Regions from separate parts of the Homo sapiens genome. Here region 1 is linked to region 2. The links come from fine-mapping of genetic effects on gene expression. Tissue or cell type: whole blood. Region 2 holds a variant in brackets; the other region holds the start of a gene. All regions are shown on one strand. Distances are from middle to middle.

Region 1 (8,089 bases), 150 kb before region 2:
TGAGATCACGCCACTGCACTCCAGCCTGGGCCACAGAGTAAGACTCTGTCTCAATAAATAAATAAATAAATAAATAAATAAACAAACAAACAAACAAATAAATAAGGGTTAGGATGGCAAATTTTATGCAATGTGTGTTTTACCACAATTAATTTTTTTAAAAAGTTTAAACAAGAAGTAGCAAACTATAATGAAGAAATATGTAAAAAAAAAAAAAAAAAGAAGCAAAAATATGAACAGTACAGGATCGATGTGTTCCCTGGGAGAAGATAGAGACAAAAAAGAAGGGCGTGGCCTCAGCTCCACTCTGTGCTCAGGGTGAGACCCAGGCTTCCCTCTCCCCTGACCTCCTCTCTCTGGCCACTGCATCCTCTGTGCTCTGGCCACTGGGCCTTTCTCTGCCCCTCCGGCATGTCCAGTGTGTTTCCATACTGAGGCCTCTGAGCCTTCTGTTCCCTGTGCCTGATGCTGTTTCCTCAGATTGTCACACAACCAATATTTCTGGAGCGTGTACTGTGCGCCAGGCACCCTGCTAGGCATTTTGAAGCACTCAAGTGAGCTGCCTTCCTGGAGCTGCTGTTCTAGCAGACAGTAAGCAAAACCAAGCAGGGTGAGGGGGACTAAGAGTGGCAAGGGGTGTGTAGCAATTTTATTTATTTATTTATTTGAGATCAGGTCTCGCTTTATCACCCAGGCTGGAGTGCAGTGGTGCAATCCTGGCTCACTGCAGCTTCGGCCTGCCTGGTTCAAGTGATCCTCCCACCTCGGCCTCCCGAGTAGCTGGGACTACAGGTGCCTGCTACTGCACCCAGCTAATTTTTGTATTTTCGGTAGAGACAGGTTTTCACCATGTTGACCAGGCTGGTCTCAAACTCCTGACCTTAAGTGATCCTCCCGCTTTGGCCTCCCAAAGTGCTGGGATTGTAGGCGTGAGCCACCATGCCTGGCCTGTGGGTAGGAATCATTAGGCTCAGCAGCATGAACAAAGTGACATTTGAGAAAAGATGGGAATGAGGCAAAGAAGTTAGTTGTGCAAACATCTGGTGGAACCACTCCAGGCAGATGGAACAGCCAACCCCAAGCCATAGGGCAGGACCTGCTGGTGTAACGGGCCCAGAGTTCAAGTCAACAATCAGACTTAATGACATAATTAAAGGTGCTCAACTTCATGAGTCATCAGGAAAATGCAAATTAAAACCACAATATGGCACCTCTACAATGCACCAGAGCAGGGAAAATGGAATAAACATCACTGACACTGACAAGGACAAGGAATAAGTGTAGTTTCATCCCCTGCTGGATATAAACTAGTACAACCACCATAGGAAACTCTTTGGCAGTGTCTACCAAAGCTGAACACAGGGCCATCCTATGCCCTGGCGATTCCATGCCCAGGTATATGCCCAAGAGAATGGCATTCATATGTTCCCCAGAAGACACACACAAGAATGTTCACAGCAGCACCATTTATCAGAGTCAAAAATGGAGTCTGGACATGGTGGCTCACACCTGTAATCCCAGCACTTTGGCTGGTGGAGGCGGGAGGATTGCTCGAGGTCAGAAGTTTGAGACCAGCCTGGGCAAGATAGCGAGACCTCATCTCTACAAAGGATTTTAAAAAATTAGCTGGGTGTGGTGGCATGTGCTTGTAGCCCCAGCTACTCAGGAGGTTGAGGTGGGAGGATCACTTGAGCCTGGGAGGTCGAGGCTGCAGTGAGCTATGATTGTGCCACTGTACTCCGACCTGGGTGATAAAGTGACATCCTACCTCTAGAAAAAACAAACTGAAAAAGCTTGGTCCCTCCATTTCAAATACTGAGATTTCATAGATGAAACTACTTCAGAAGTCTATTGAACCCTCCTCTATCAAGGCAATCACATTTTCATTCAGCTTCTGGGGGGGAAATGCCTACTACAAATGCCATCCGTGATTGAATGGAAGCAAATCATTTTGGGGACAATTCTGATTTTAGTGGCAAGGAGGTATCTGAGCTAAGAGCTGCCGGGAGGACTCTCACCCATGAGAAAACCAGCCCTCCAGGTCATTCCTATACTTCACTGTCAAATCTCCCTTTGCCTGTTCCGGCAGCTTTATTCATAATAGACAAAGATTGGAAACATCCCAAACCCCCTTCAGCAGGAGACCGATATACACATTGTGTGTGGTATGTGCCTATCACGCAATAGGACTCAGTGCTTCGAACAGGGCGGGAGGTGGGAGGACAAGCGAGGATGAGCGTGGAGTCCTCACATGGCAGAAAGGCAGAGGATCAAGCCAGCCCACTCCTGCAAGCCCTTTCTACGGCATCCCAAATACATTCATGACTCAAATACCCCCACAAAGGCCCCACCTCCCAACACTGTTGCAATAAAGATTACATTTCCAATGCTTGAATTTAGGGGGACACTAACTACCACATTTCTTGCTAACATACACATCTCTTTAGGGAAGGTCTTTGGACATCACTTTTTTTTTTAAGACAGGATCTTGTTCTGTTACCCAGTCTGGGGTGCAGTGGTGCGATCACAGCTCACTGCAGCCTCAAACTCCTGGGCTCAGTTGATCCTCCCATCTCAGCCTCCCAAGCACCTGGGACTACAGGTGTGCATCACCACGCCCAGCTATTGTTTGTATTTTTTTTTTTTTGTAGAGACAGGGTTTTGTCATGTTGCCCAGGCTGGTTGGACATCATATTTTGAGCACATTTCTGGCTGTTTTTAAGATTACATTCCTAGGAATGTTGGTGAATTGATGGGGGACAAAAACATTTGTTTCCCCTTGAGAGGCAATGGTACAGGGGAGGGGTTAAGAGCATAGACCCTAGGATCACATTGCCTAGGGTTGAATACTAGCTCTGCCACTTACTGGCTACAAGACCCTGGACAAGTCACTTCCTCTCTGTCTCTGTAAATGAGCATAATAGCAGCACCTGCCTCAGGGGGTTGTTGAATAGGTTCAATGAGCTAATATATAAGAAACACATGGTATATGCTATAAAGTGTTGTCTTCTTTTCCTTCTCCTCCTCCGCTCCCTGGGATTATTACCATAATGATACAATTATCATTTGTTCTTTCTGTAAAATGGAGTTTGATGTTGGAGCTGCTTCCTAGGCAGTCAGGCAGGGCAGTCACTGAGAATGAGGACGGCGTTTCTGACTCAGCTGTGGGCGGGCAGCTGCAGTGACACAGCTGAGTCTTGGCAAACACTTTTCATGTACGAAGCCTGACCCTGGAGTCTTGAGGCTGAACTTTTCACCAACAAACAGGAATGCATTCATGAATGTTACCTCTGGGTGCTGTCCTCTGGAAGCCATCTGCATAGCCTAACTCTGCCACCCTGGCTTGGACAATTATGGTGATTTCTCTGATGCCCCTGATACTACCACCTCAATCTGAATTTAGCAGCTCCCTTCACATATGGTTAGATTGCCTTTAAAGAGATTTTTTTTTTTTTTAGAGATGGGGTCTCACTATGTTGCCCAGGCTGGTCTTGAACTTGTGGGTGGGCTCAAGCAATCCTCCCACCTCAGCCTCCCAAAGTGCTGGGACCACAGGTGTGAGTCACTGCACCCGGCCTAGATGTCCTTTTTCAAACGTAAGCAATCATGCTCAGGTTTAGGATTATTCGTGCCTGGGTCCCCCTCCCATACTGAATTGCTATGGACAGCCAGCTAGTCTTCATCCTGCACCCCCCAGCCCCTGTGCAGCGTTAATGAGCCAGAAACGCTGATTCTGCTGCTGAGTTCCGTGGAACCCCCTGGGGCATTTTCCTGACTACCCCCAGTGTGGCCAATCCGTGTCCACTGAGGATGAATGTGACTCCAGGAAAATACATGAAGTAACTCTGTGCCAAGCTTGGTGAATGAATTGAGCCATGCCAATTCTGTGCTATAAATAAATTTACAAGACTGGTTTTCTTGCGTGGCTCATAAGCCAGGTCTAGCTGCCACTCCCCCAGAAGTCTTCCAAAAAGTATTTTGAGCAGGACCTTTAGACTGGGGTGTTGGAGTCCCAAGGCCAAGGCCGACCGCGCTGCTCTGGGCCCAGCGGGCGTTCCCACACGGGGCTGTAATGCCACGATTGGCCGCAGGAGGGGGGCCGTATTCCAGACCCCATTGCAGAAGCCTCCGCAACTGCTCCAAGAACTTTATTTTATACGGACTGGCGGCGAGAGCAGCTGCAGTTCGCATCTCAGGCAGTACCTAGAGGAGCTGCCGGTGCCTCCTCAGAACATCTCCTGATCGCTACCCAGGACCAGGCACCAAGGACAGGGAGTCCCAGGCGCACACCCCCCATTCTGGGTCCCCCAGGCCCAGACCCCCACTCTGCCACAGGTTGCATCTTGACCTGGTCCTCCTGCAGAAGTGGCCCCTGTGGTCCTGCTCTGAGACTCGTCCCTGGGCGCCCCTGCAGCCCCTTTCTATGACTCCATCTGGATTTGGCTGGCTGTGGGGACGCGGTCCGAGGGGCGGCCTGGCTCTCAGCGTGGTGGCAGCCAGCTCTCTGGCCACCATGGCAAATGCTGAGATCTGAGGGGACAAGGCTCTACAGCCTCAGCCAGGGGCACTCAGGTGAGTCTTGGTACTAATTTTGTCCTATCTCCTGGGCATGCTGTCTCAAAGACAGCTGGAGGAGACTGGAGTGAACTGGATGGAGAGGAGTACAGAGTTTGGGAAACTTCAGACCTAGAGCCTGGAGGTGCCTTCTCCAGGTGGGAAGGTCCCCGCCTGCTGGGCCCGCAGATATCTGCCGGGCCCTCATCCAACTGCCTGGGCTGGAGAGAATGTGAGCCTGCATTTGGGGTGCCAGAGGGAAGCTATTGCCTTGGTGGCTACTCCACCTGACTCATGTCACAGCTCAAGAGCCTACTCAGGGTGCAGATGGCTCAGGTGACAGCTCCTCTCCATGGCTTCGTGTGTGTGCATGTGTGTGTGTGCATGTGTGTGTGTGCATGTGTGTGTGTGTGCATGTGTGTGTGTGTGCATGTCTGTGCGTGTGCATGTGCCAGTGGTGGGATATATGTGGGGAGAGGTTATTTCTAAAATATCTGTCTCTGTCCAGCTTTGGGTTATGATTTAGCTTAACTAAGTACAGTTAGAGGAGGAAAACATTTAAAACCTCCTTAGTGATTCTCTCTTTGGAGAAGGGCCACACTCATGTGATTTTTTTCCTTGGTTTTGATGAGTTTAAAGTGAGGTAATCCAAAGAAAAGCCATAAACCCTGCAGAGTTAGATGCGGGTACCCAGAGAAACTGACTTGGTAGCAGCAAATGAGGCTCGTGCTACCCACTCAGAGGAGGAATTAATGGAGTCCTTCTGATCTCCAGAGAAGGATTGAAGAGCCAGGGTCCTGATATCAGCCCTAGAGTGCATTCGCGATTGCCTTTTACAAAGGGAACTTCAAACAGCTTTGTTTCTGAGACTGGCTAGGTAGGAGGGAGGCCTTGGGAACCTGGACACCCCCTTACCTGGCTGCCAGGCAGAGTCAGAAGATGCTGGGGGATGCTTTTTCTCATCAGACTGCCACCAGCTCCCCTGAGTGACCTTGTTCATAAAGTCATGCCACATGCATTATCTCACGGGAGGCTCACAGTGATCCTGGGTGACCAGCAGCTACCCACCTTCCCATCTTAGAGGTCATGTACCTGAGGCTGAATGAGGTCAGGTAATTGAGCCAAGTTCCCCCAAGAAACCAATACGCAGAGGAGCTAGGATGGGAGCCCTTGGCTTCTGTGTTCCCTGCATTCCTGCAGAGAGCCAGGCCTGCAGGGCGCAGATGGCCCCAGGGCACAGGGCTGCAGGGCACAGATGGCTGAGGGCTTTTCCAGCTCTAAAATGCAGAATCTAGAAGCAGATCCCTGGCTCTGAACCTGCCCTTCTAAGTGCCTTGGGTGAAATTGTCTGGAAGTAAATCATGATTGCCAAGAGGTTAGTGGAGAGGGTGACACCTCCCTGTTAGAGCAAGACCTCCCTCTTTGAGTTGCAAGTTGAGGTCCAGTCTCCTTGGGCTTCATCCACAGGTCACTGTGGCTTCCACATCTCGCCCATGTGCTTCAAGCTCTCAGAGCCCTGCCTCAGTCCCAGGATCCCCACCTGCTGGAGTACACTGGCTGGCAGTCTGAGGTGGGATTCTCTTCTCTGCCTGATCTGGGGCCCAGAAAGTGGTCACCAAAGGGGCTGACATGCAATTCCCAAACAAAGCAACCCTGCAGCTGAGCCAGTGCCCTGTGTAGGAAAACTGTGCCCGGGGCCTCTTCCCGCTCTGATATCCATTCCTTCCTTTGCCTCTTTGGTCTGGGATGGCTTATGTTTAAAATGGGAGGGACGGAATGCAAATGCCATCAGCCTACCCCCAACACAGTGCTCCTGGGAGGAGCACTTGCCATCAGTTTCATCTTCTAGAGCACAGACTTGGTCCAAAGACAGTAAGATCCATGATCTGAGGGTCCCAATGCCTGCTTCCTCCCCCAAGAAAGAAAAACAGCCCCCAAGAAACCTTGGGCAGACAGAACATGCGTAGGTTTCAATTCCAAGTAACAAACATGAGTAGAGTTGTCTGAGCTTTTCCAAGCCCTGTGCACTCACATCTGGCCCCGCTCGGCCCCAGTCCCTCTCCCCAGCAGATCCCCTGGGCTCCTGCTGGACCAGCTGAGGGGTGGGGAGGAGGAAGGAGACAGCTGCCCTTCACACACATTCTGGCTAACAAGCCGTGCATTCCAGCCCCGTCCCAGGAGCTGACCAGAAGAGGAGGAAGGTGGAAATGGCAGTGGGGCCTCACACCTCCACTCCCCAGGGGCAGCGCCCTGTCTGGCTCTGTGTGGCCTCTGGGAAGCAGAGGCTATTGCCTTTGGCAGAGGGAGGGTTATTGCAGGCAAAAGAGACATTGGCCTCCTGCTTCACAGCCCCGCAAGGAGTGAAGCCAGAGGGAGGGCTGCCGCACACAGTGCTCATGAAATGAGGGAGGGTCCCTTGCAACTTAGCAGTGCTGGAGCTGCCCGCGGCCCCACCTAGAGGCCCTGCCTGGGTGGAGGCATTGGGTGGAGGGCCGGAATTGGGAGCCCAGTGAACTGGACACCACTGCAGCACAGGGAAGCCAGAGTGGGTGGTGTCTGGGGCAGGGAGGAGAGATCCTGGCAGAGCCGAGGACCACCCCCTGTTCCATCCCTCCCATAGGCTGGAGGAGAGGCCCGCAGATACTGGGAGCCCCAAGGCTGTGTGTGTGCACATGCGTGTGTGTGCCCGTTATGGGGGATGTACAGAAGGGCTAACAGCAGAGGCGTCCAGCCCTCCTGGGTCATTAGAAGGACATGTATACAGTGACTGGTCAGTTCTGGTCTCTTCTCAGCCCAAATGTCAGAGGTCTGTGGAGGCCAAGCTCAAGTCATGAAAATAGGGGCTTCAGCTGGGTGCAGTGGCTCACACCTGTAATCTCAGCACTTTGGGAGGCTGAGGCCAGTGGAGCGCTTGACTCCAGGAGTTCCAGACCAGCCTGGCCAACATGGTGAAACCCCATCTCTGCAAAAAATTAGCTGGACATGGTGGCTTGTGCCTGTAATCCCAGCTACTCAGGAGGATGAGTTGGGAGGATCACTTGAGCCCGGGAGGCGGAGGTTGCAGTGAGCCAAGACTGCACCACTGCCATCCAGCCTGGGCAACAGAGTGAGACCCTGTCTCAAAAAAAAAAAAAAAAAAAAAAAAGAAAGAAAGAAACAGAAAAAAAAAAAGAAGAAAGAAAATACGGAATTCTTGTTTTGCTCTGCTGCAGAGCAACCCCGCCAGCCGCCTTCCCTGATTATGTCTATTTATGAAAGTTGCCACGCCTCCTTGCCCACCCTCCCTCTGAAGAGAAACTGATTGACTGATCTCTCAATCAACAGGCATTGTCCCCCCACTGCCACCTGCCAGCCCTGCATCCTCTCCTCCCAGCCTCCTCTGGGTTGAAGGGTTGAGTTTGCTCCATACTGGGCCTGGGACCCATCCTCATGGGGCTTTTATCTTCTAAAGGATGCTGTTCTTTGGTTAAATGTCCAGATAGTTAAAGAGAATCAGAAGCAAAGGTCAAGATAAACTCATGGCTGGAACCTTGAT
Region 2 (8,105 bases):
AATACTTCAAAGGAATCTATAGCTTTAAATGCTCATATTATAAAAGAAAAGAGGTTTAAATCAATTATCCAAATCTCCACTGTAAGAAGCTGGTGACAGAGGGAAGGGAAGCAAATTAAATCCAAAACAAATAGAAGGAAGAAAATAACAAGGATAAAACTATCTTTCGTCACAGATGACATAGTTGTCTATGTAGAAAATCTGTAAAAATCTTAAAAAAAAAAAAAAAAAAAAGGCCAGGTGCAGTGGCTCACGCCTGTAATCCCAGCACTTTGGGAGGCCGAGGCGGGCGGATCACCTGAGGCCGGGAGTTCGAGACCAACCTGACCAACATGGAGAAACTGTCTCTACTAAAAATACAAAATTAGCTGGGCATGGTGGTGGGTGCCTGTAATCCCAGCTACTCAGGAGGCTGAGGCAGGAGAATTGCTTGAACCCAGAAGGTGGTGGTTGCGGTGAGCTGAGATAGTGCCACTGTACTCCAGCCTGGGCAAAAAGAGTGAAACTCCGTCTCAAAAAAAAAAAAAAAACAACCAAACTCCTGGAACCAAGAAGGAATTATAGCAAGATTTCAAGACACAAGGTTAATATACAAAAATCAATTGCTTTCCTATATACCAGCAATGAACAAGTGGAATTTGAAGTTAAAAACACAGTATCATTTACATTAGCACTCTCCCAAATGAAATAAATTCTGTATAAGTCTAAAAAATATATACAAGATCTATATAGGGAAAACTACAACACACATGAAATAAAGAACTAAATAAATGGAGAGATATTCCATGTTCATGGAAAGGAAGACTCAATATTGCCAAGATGTCAGTTCTTCCCAACTTTATAAATTCAATACAATCTCAATCACAATTTTAGCAAGTTATGTTGTAGATCTCAACAAACTTATTCTAAAATTTACATGGAGAGGCAAAAGACCAGAACAGTCAACATAATAGACTGAAAAGACAAAATTGGAAGACTGACAATACCTAACTTTTTTTTTTTTTTTTTTTTTTTTGAGACAGAGTCTCACTCTGTCACCCAGGCTGGAGTGCAGTGGTGCAATTTCGGCTCACTGCAACCACCACCTCCCAGGTTCAAGCAATTCTCCTGCCTCAGTCTCCTGAGTGGCTGGAACTACAGGCACGTGCCACCACACCCAGCTAATTTTTATATTTTTAGTAGAGACGGGGTTTCGCCATGTTGGCTAGGCTGGTCTCGAACTCCTGACTTCAGATGATCTGCCTGCCTTGGCCTCCCAAAATGCTGGGATTACAGGAGTGAGCCAGCATGCCTGGCCAACACCACCTAACTTCGATACTTACTATAAAGCTACAATAATCAAGACAGTGTGCTATTGGTGAAATAATAGACAAATTGATCAACAGAACAAAATAGAAAGCCCAGATGTAGAACCACACAGATATAGTCAACTGATTTTTTTCCAAAGGAGCAAAGGTGATACAATGGAGCAAGGACAGTCTTTTCAGTAAGTGGTGCTGGAATAACTGGACACTCATATGCAAAAAAATATGAATCTAGACACAGGCCTTACACCCTTCACAAAAATTATCTCAAAATGGATCACAAACCTAAATGTAAGATGTAAAACTAAAACTCGTAGAAGATAACACAGGAGAAAACTTAGATGACCTTGGGTATAACGTTAACCTTTTAGATCCTTGATACTTACCCGAAAGAGTTGAAAACTTATGACAACACACAAACCTACACATGAACGTTTATACCAGCTTCATTCATTCATAACTACCAAAACTTGAAAGCACTTAAGATGTCCTTCAGTAGGTGAATGTTACATCCAGACAATGGAATATTATCCAGTGCTAAAAAGAAATTAGTTATTGAGCCTTGAAAAGACATGGAAGAAACTTAAATGTATAGCACTAAGTGAAAAAGGCTAAAAAAGGGTACATAATATATGACTGCAACTATATGACACTCTGGAAAAGGGAAAACTATGGAGACCGTAAAAAGGTCAGTAGTTGCCAGGGGTTTCTGGGGAGAGAGAGATGAATAGGTAGAGCACAGAGGATTTTTAGGGCAGTGAAACTACTCTGTGTGATATCATAATGTTGAATACATGCTATTATACATTTATTTAAATGCACAGAATGTACAACACCAAGAGTGAACCCTAAGGTAAACTATAGACTTTGGGTAATACTAATATATCAGTGTAGGTTTATCAGTTGTAACAAATGCACCACTCTGGTGGGGGATGTTGATAATGGGGAAGGCTGTGCATGTGGAGGGCAGAAAGTATATAGAAATACCATCTTTTCTGCTCAATCTTGCTATAAAGTTAAAACTGCTCTAAGAAAATAAAGTGTTAGAAACTAACCATTAAAAATGTTAAATTGGATTTCATTAAAATTAAATCTTTTAGTGCAGTGGCCCAGCACTTTGGGAGGGCAAGGCAGGCAGATCAACTGAGGTCAGGAGTTCAAGACCAGCCTAGCCAACATGGCAAAACCCCATCTCTACTAAAAATATAAAAATTAGCCAGGGATGGTGGTGCATGCCTGTAATCTTGGCTACTCAGGAGGCTGAGGCAAAAGAATTGCATGAACCCTGGAGGCGGAGGATGGAGTGAGCTGAGATCATGCCATTGCACTCCAGACTCCAGCCTAGGTGACAGAGCAAGACTCTATCTCAAATTAAAAAAAAAAAAAAGTCTTCTGTTGGTCAAAAGATGTCAAGAAAATCAAAAGGCAAGCTACAGACTGGGAGAAAATATTTCCAATCACATACAAAGGAGTTGTGTACACAGTCATGTATTGTGTGTGTACTTATCAATTATACACATAAAATCTATGCGTTTCATTGCATGTGAATTTTGACTCAATACAAATTAAATATATTACATTTTTCAAAATAGATTTTTTTTTTTTTGACGGAGTCTTGCTCTTGTTACCCAGGCTGTAGTGCAGTGTCGTGATCTCGGCTCACTGCAACCTCCGCCTCCCAGTTCTAGCGATTCTCCTGCCTCAGCCTCCCGAGTAGCTGGGACTACAGTTGTGTGCCACTATGCACACACACTAATTTTTTGTATTTTTAATAGAGACAGGGTTTCACCATGTTAGCCAGGATGATCTCGATTTCTTGACCTCATGATCCGCCCGCCTCAGCCTCCCAAAGTGCTGGGATTACAGGTGTGAGCCACCGCACCTGGCCCCAGATAGGATTTTTTTTTAAAGGAACTTATAGCAGGTGCAAAATGATATGCCTTGAGTCTTGATCCAACCTGGAATTTTCAACTATATTCTATTATTCTCTTAGAGTTTTAGCCTAACCACAGTGTGAACTCAGAGGCATGGTATAGCTTGGTAGATACTCTTCCTAGCTTCCTTTCTTTTTGGTTCTCTGCCTGTTCCTGCCACAGAGGAGCAATATCTAGGAAAGCACTTTTGGCCTTTCTCTTTTGACCATATTGCAGTACCCTTCTTGAGGGACCAAACTTTTGTTTTGGCAAGAGGCTTCTAATGACTTCACAAACTCTGCTACTGATTCTACCCCATAAATGCTGGGGTAGAATTGGTTTTGTTCTTTACAGTCCACTTCGACTGGCCAGTGTCATCCTTCTTGATCTATCACCGGGATTACCACAATTTCCCATTACCTGCTCCCACCAATAATCACAGGGAGATTTCTCCATCTAACATGATTCTGATCATGTCACTGTCTTGCTTTAAATCCTTCTGTGACTCCCTAAGACCTACAAAATGAAGTTCAAATTTCTACACCAGAAAAGGCCATGGTCTGGCCTCTTCCTATTTCCCCAGTTACTTTTCCTTGCCTTATTATTGTCTTCCTTGAGACAGGAACTTTCTCTGCAACCCAGGCTGGAGTGCAGTGGCATGGTCACAGCTCACTGCAGCCTCAACCTCATCAGCCCAAGTGATCCTCCTACCTCAGCTTCCTGAGGAGTAGCTGAGACTAAAGGTGTGTGC[T/C]CCCATGCCCACCTAATTTCTTAAATATTTTTTATAGAGATGGGGTCTCCCCATGTTGCCCAGGCTGATCTTGAACTTCTGAGCTCAAGTGATCCTCCCATTTCAGCCTCTCAAAGGGCTGAGATTACAGCAGTGAGCCACCGCACCCAGCCTTCCTTGCTCTTTACTGTTCAAAGATTGTGCATCTTTTGTCATGCCTCTACCCATCCTATCCTCTTGCCTGGTGAGCCCTGCCCTGCCCTTGTGCCCATGAAACAGGATCATCATGCAAACTTGTCATACTTCAAGACCCAAGTCAATGAAATCTTGCAGGACACCCCCAGCACAGTCAGGCTCACTATCATCCATTATCTCTTTGACACATTGTATTGCATCCATTTGCTAAGTAGTCTGAATGCTCCCTGAAAGCAAGTTTTTTTTTTATCTTTTCATTTTTTTTAACATCCAGCACTTAGCTCAGGTTCATTTTTTCAAGAGATAAATAAGAGAATGAGGGAGGGAATTGAATGAGTTTTCCCACTTTTGGAGTTTTCTTGAGCAATCCATAAAATGCAAATGCAATCTCTCCTCCCACACACAGGGAACAGACTCATCAAAGTCTTCCTAGTTCAGGCTTACAATTTAAAAATACAAACATATGTCTCATTCACCATAGCAGCCATCTAATGAGCTCTATGCCTAGCTTGGGACTGTTCTTTGATTGAGGGCTGCTAAATTTATGCTGAGAATATTAATAGGTGCATGAAGGGGCATAGGTATTAGGGCCTTAGGAGGCCCTTCCCTTCTGATATCCACCTACCCCTTATGCCTGAGGAACAAGTTTCTTTTGGTTTGCTTTTTCGTTTTTCACAGGGTCTCGTTCTATTACCCAAGCTGGAGTGCAATGGTACAATCACAGCTCACGATAGCCTCAAACTCCCTGGCTCAAACAGTCCTCCCACCTCAGCCTCCCAAGCAGCCAGCGCTACAGGCATACGCCGTCATGCCTGGCTTTTTTTTTTTTTTTTTTTTTTGTAGAGATAGGGTCTCACCATGTTGCCCAGGCTGATCTTGAACTCCTGGCCTCAAGTGATCCTCCTGCCTTGGCCTCCCAAGGCTCTGGGACTGCAGGCATGAGTCACCATGCTCAGCTAATTTTTTTTCTAATTTTTTTTTTTTTTTTTTTGGAGAGACAGGGTCTAGCTATGTTGCCCAGGCTCATCTCTAATTTCTGGCCTCAAGCAATCCTCCCACCTCACCCTCCCAAACTGCTGGGATTACAGTCATGAGCCATTCTGCCTGGCCAATTATTTTTTTTAATTAAAAAACAAACAAACAAACTGAGTGTGTCACGTTGCTGAAAAAGCTCTGGGCTTGTTCTCATGCCTCAGCTTCATGGGTTCTAAAGTGACCAACTTCTCCATTTAACTATCTTCCCTAAGGAAAGGGTCTGAACCAATGATTTTCAGATGTCCTGAGAACATCCGGCTTATTTTTCTTCACCCAGTATGTTTATGCTGCTGTTGTCTTAGTGGCAGGATAATTTCAAACCGCATCCAGTGTGCAGGAGGATTTCCATTCCCTCTAAGTTCCTGACCACCCTATACATTCTAGATGGGTACTTAGTACTTAAAATATAAACCACCAAAAATTATTTCCTATTAATCACTGTATTGATTCACCCTAACATGTTGAGAATCAAGACAGTTTTTTTTTTTTTCTGATGGAGTTAAAAAGCAAAGAATATTGTGGAACAAAAACAATGACTGGGTGCTGAGATTGTGGCCAGATGTCAGGGCTGGCCCGGAAATCTTACACAATCACAGAGGATGGAAAACTCATCTTCCTTAGGCATTAAGTAGGCGTCTTCCCTTAGGGAGGGTTTGAGTTCCCTGCCACATCTTCCCAGTTCACTGGACCACAATGGAGGCAGGAACTCATCAATTACAGGCGACTCAGATCCCAGCACATTTTCCAAAGCACTTCTTGTTTTTCAAGCCCCGTATTCCCAGAACCAGCTAATTTCGCTTCTTATTGGGAGGTAGGAAAAGTCAGAAAACTGCAAATGGAAACCTTTAGCCATTGAGGATGAACAAAGCTGGTGGAGACCAGCCCTCCCTAGGTGGATGTGCAAAGGGTTCCTCCCCGCAAACCCCCACCCACCTTGCTCCACAGCTGCAGCTGCACCTCTCCCAGATGCCAGGGTCTGGACTCAGAGCTCCTCATCCCTTGGAATGACCTGGGTGATAGGAGCATCTGTTATACTGTCTGTAGGTGACTTTTGCTGGGCTGCTGAATGAGAGCTTGTCACCAGAACGACCAAGCCATGATCAGAAGCCTAGAACTTTCACCCCTACCCCTCATTCTCCAGGGAGGAGAGAGGGTCTAGCGATTGGGTTAATAATCAATCATGCCTTTGTGATGAAGCCTCCATTAACATCCCTAAAAGATGGAGTTCAGGGAGATTCCAGGTTGGTGAATGCATCCACGTGCCAGGAGGCTAGTGCACTCTAACTCTATGGGGACCTGTGCTGGGGACCCTTCTAGACCTTGCCCTATGCTGTACCTTTTCATCTGGCTGAAATATCCTCAGTAATAAATTGACAATAGTAAGTAAACTGTCTTCCTGGGTTCTGGGAGCTGCTCTAGCAAAATATTGAACCCAAAGAGGGGTTCATGGGAAGCTCCAATTTGTAGCCAAATCAGACAGAAGTTGTGGGTGTCCTGGGGACTTACTACTTGTGATTGGCATCTGAATTGGGGGCTGGTGTTGTGGGACTGAGCCCTTAACCTGTGAGGTCTGTGCTAACTCTGGTCTGTGTCAGAACTGAATTGAATTGTACGACACCCAGCTGGTGTGGGAAAAGTGGCTGGCATGGGAAAAAGTGTGCACATCTGGTCACAGAAGTGTTGAGTGTGAGTATAGAGAAAAACTGTTTTTCCACTATACACCTGCCCATTGCCAGGCAGGAGACTGGGACTGGGGGTGTTGGGTTCATGTTAGATTCAAGGACACCCATCATAGCTGTGATCCACGGATTGGGAGACCACCACTGCCACTGCAGGTGTCTTTCAAGACCCACAAAGTAAGTGACTAGACACAAGAATGTGGTTGCTGAAACCCTAAAAAAAAAACCCAAACCCCCAAACCCCCCCGCCCCCCCCCCGCCATCCCCCACCGAGCTGTGCTTGCCAGGGGAAACAGGCAAAGGGGCAGGAAAGGGATTCCATCTCATTTCTGCCTTCCAGGTTGCACCAAGTGCATCTCATTGAGAAGATCATAACGGAACCCTTTCGCTGTGTCCCTATGTGGGTGACAGACCTTCCCGGGCTCACTTTCCATCACATTTTTTTTTCTTCTCCCTTTGCTTTTTTTTAAATTTAAATTTTTAACTTTTTAGGGGTACACAGTAGGTGTATATATTTATGGAGTACATGTCCCTTTGCTTTTAAAAAGCTCTTCCCCTGTGGACTTAACACTACAGAAAAGTACCCAAAACAGAATGTCCAGCACAATGATTTATCAAAGCAAACCCTTGTGTAGCATCACTCAGGTGGGGAGCTAGAATGTTAGCACCCCAGGAGCCCCTCTCATTCTTCTCCTGATCCTTCCTACTTTCTTCCTCCAAAGTGATCATGAACCTGATTTTGATGGTAGTCACTTTGGTGGTGTTACCTTGTAATGTTTTTGTCAGTTAAGCATGAACTCCTAAATACTATGGCTTTGTTTTGCCTGTTTTGAGATTTATATGAATAGCATTATGCAATAGTGTATTCTTTTGCATGTAGCTTCTTTGCTGAACATTTTGAGGTTGATCCAAGTCTGTTGCTCGATGGCCTCATCTGAAGACCTAATGGCTTTGGGACACCTGAGAAGCACCCTAGGGATGTGTCAAGTTGATTGGTTGGATATACAGATGTAACAAGATAAAACCTTAACATTTTGATATTTTTCCTCTTCTTTCCTAAAAGTTCCCACCTAACCAATTGAAGTGGTGTCATTTTCTGGGGTAAATACCCGAGGCTCCTCATTTTACACAAGGAAATCGAATATGTGGACACACAAGAAGTGGCTTTAGGGGCAGAGATTTAATAGGCAAAAGAAAGAGAAAGGAGAACTGCTCTCTCTCCTGCAAGAGACAGGGGTGCCCTAGTGGG

What was found. PIP is the estimated chance that this variant, and not a neighbour inherited with it, causes the effect.
Region 1: it holds the start of SCARA5, and the variant in region 2 is fine-mapped to the expression of SCARA5 in whole blood (INTERVAL, PIP above 0.99).

Annotation. Positions count from the first base shown.
Region 1 is chr8:27,988,740-27,996,828 of GRCh38, reverse strand. SCARA5 (scavenger receptor class A member 5) reads left to right here and starts at 4,156. Exons shown (of 9, transcript NM_173833.6): 1 at 4,156-4,572.
Region 2 is chr8:27,842,374-27,850,478 of GRCh38, reverse strand. No RefSeq gene overlaps it. Among named protein-coding and RNA genes, the nearest start is that of PBK, 8.6 kb to the right of the region's middle. The variant T/C (reference allele first, on the strand shown) is at 3,969.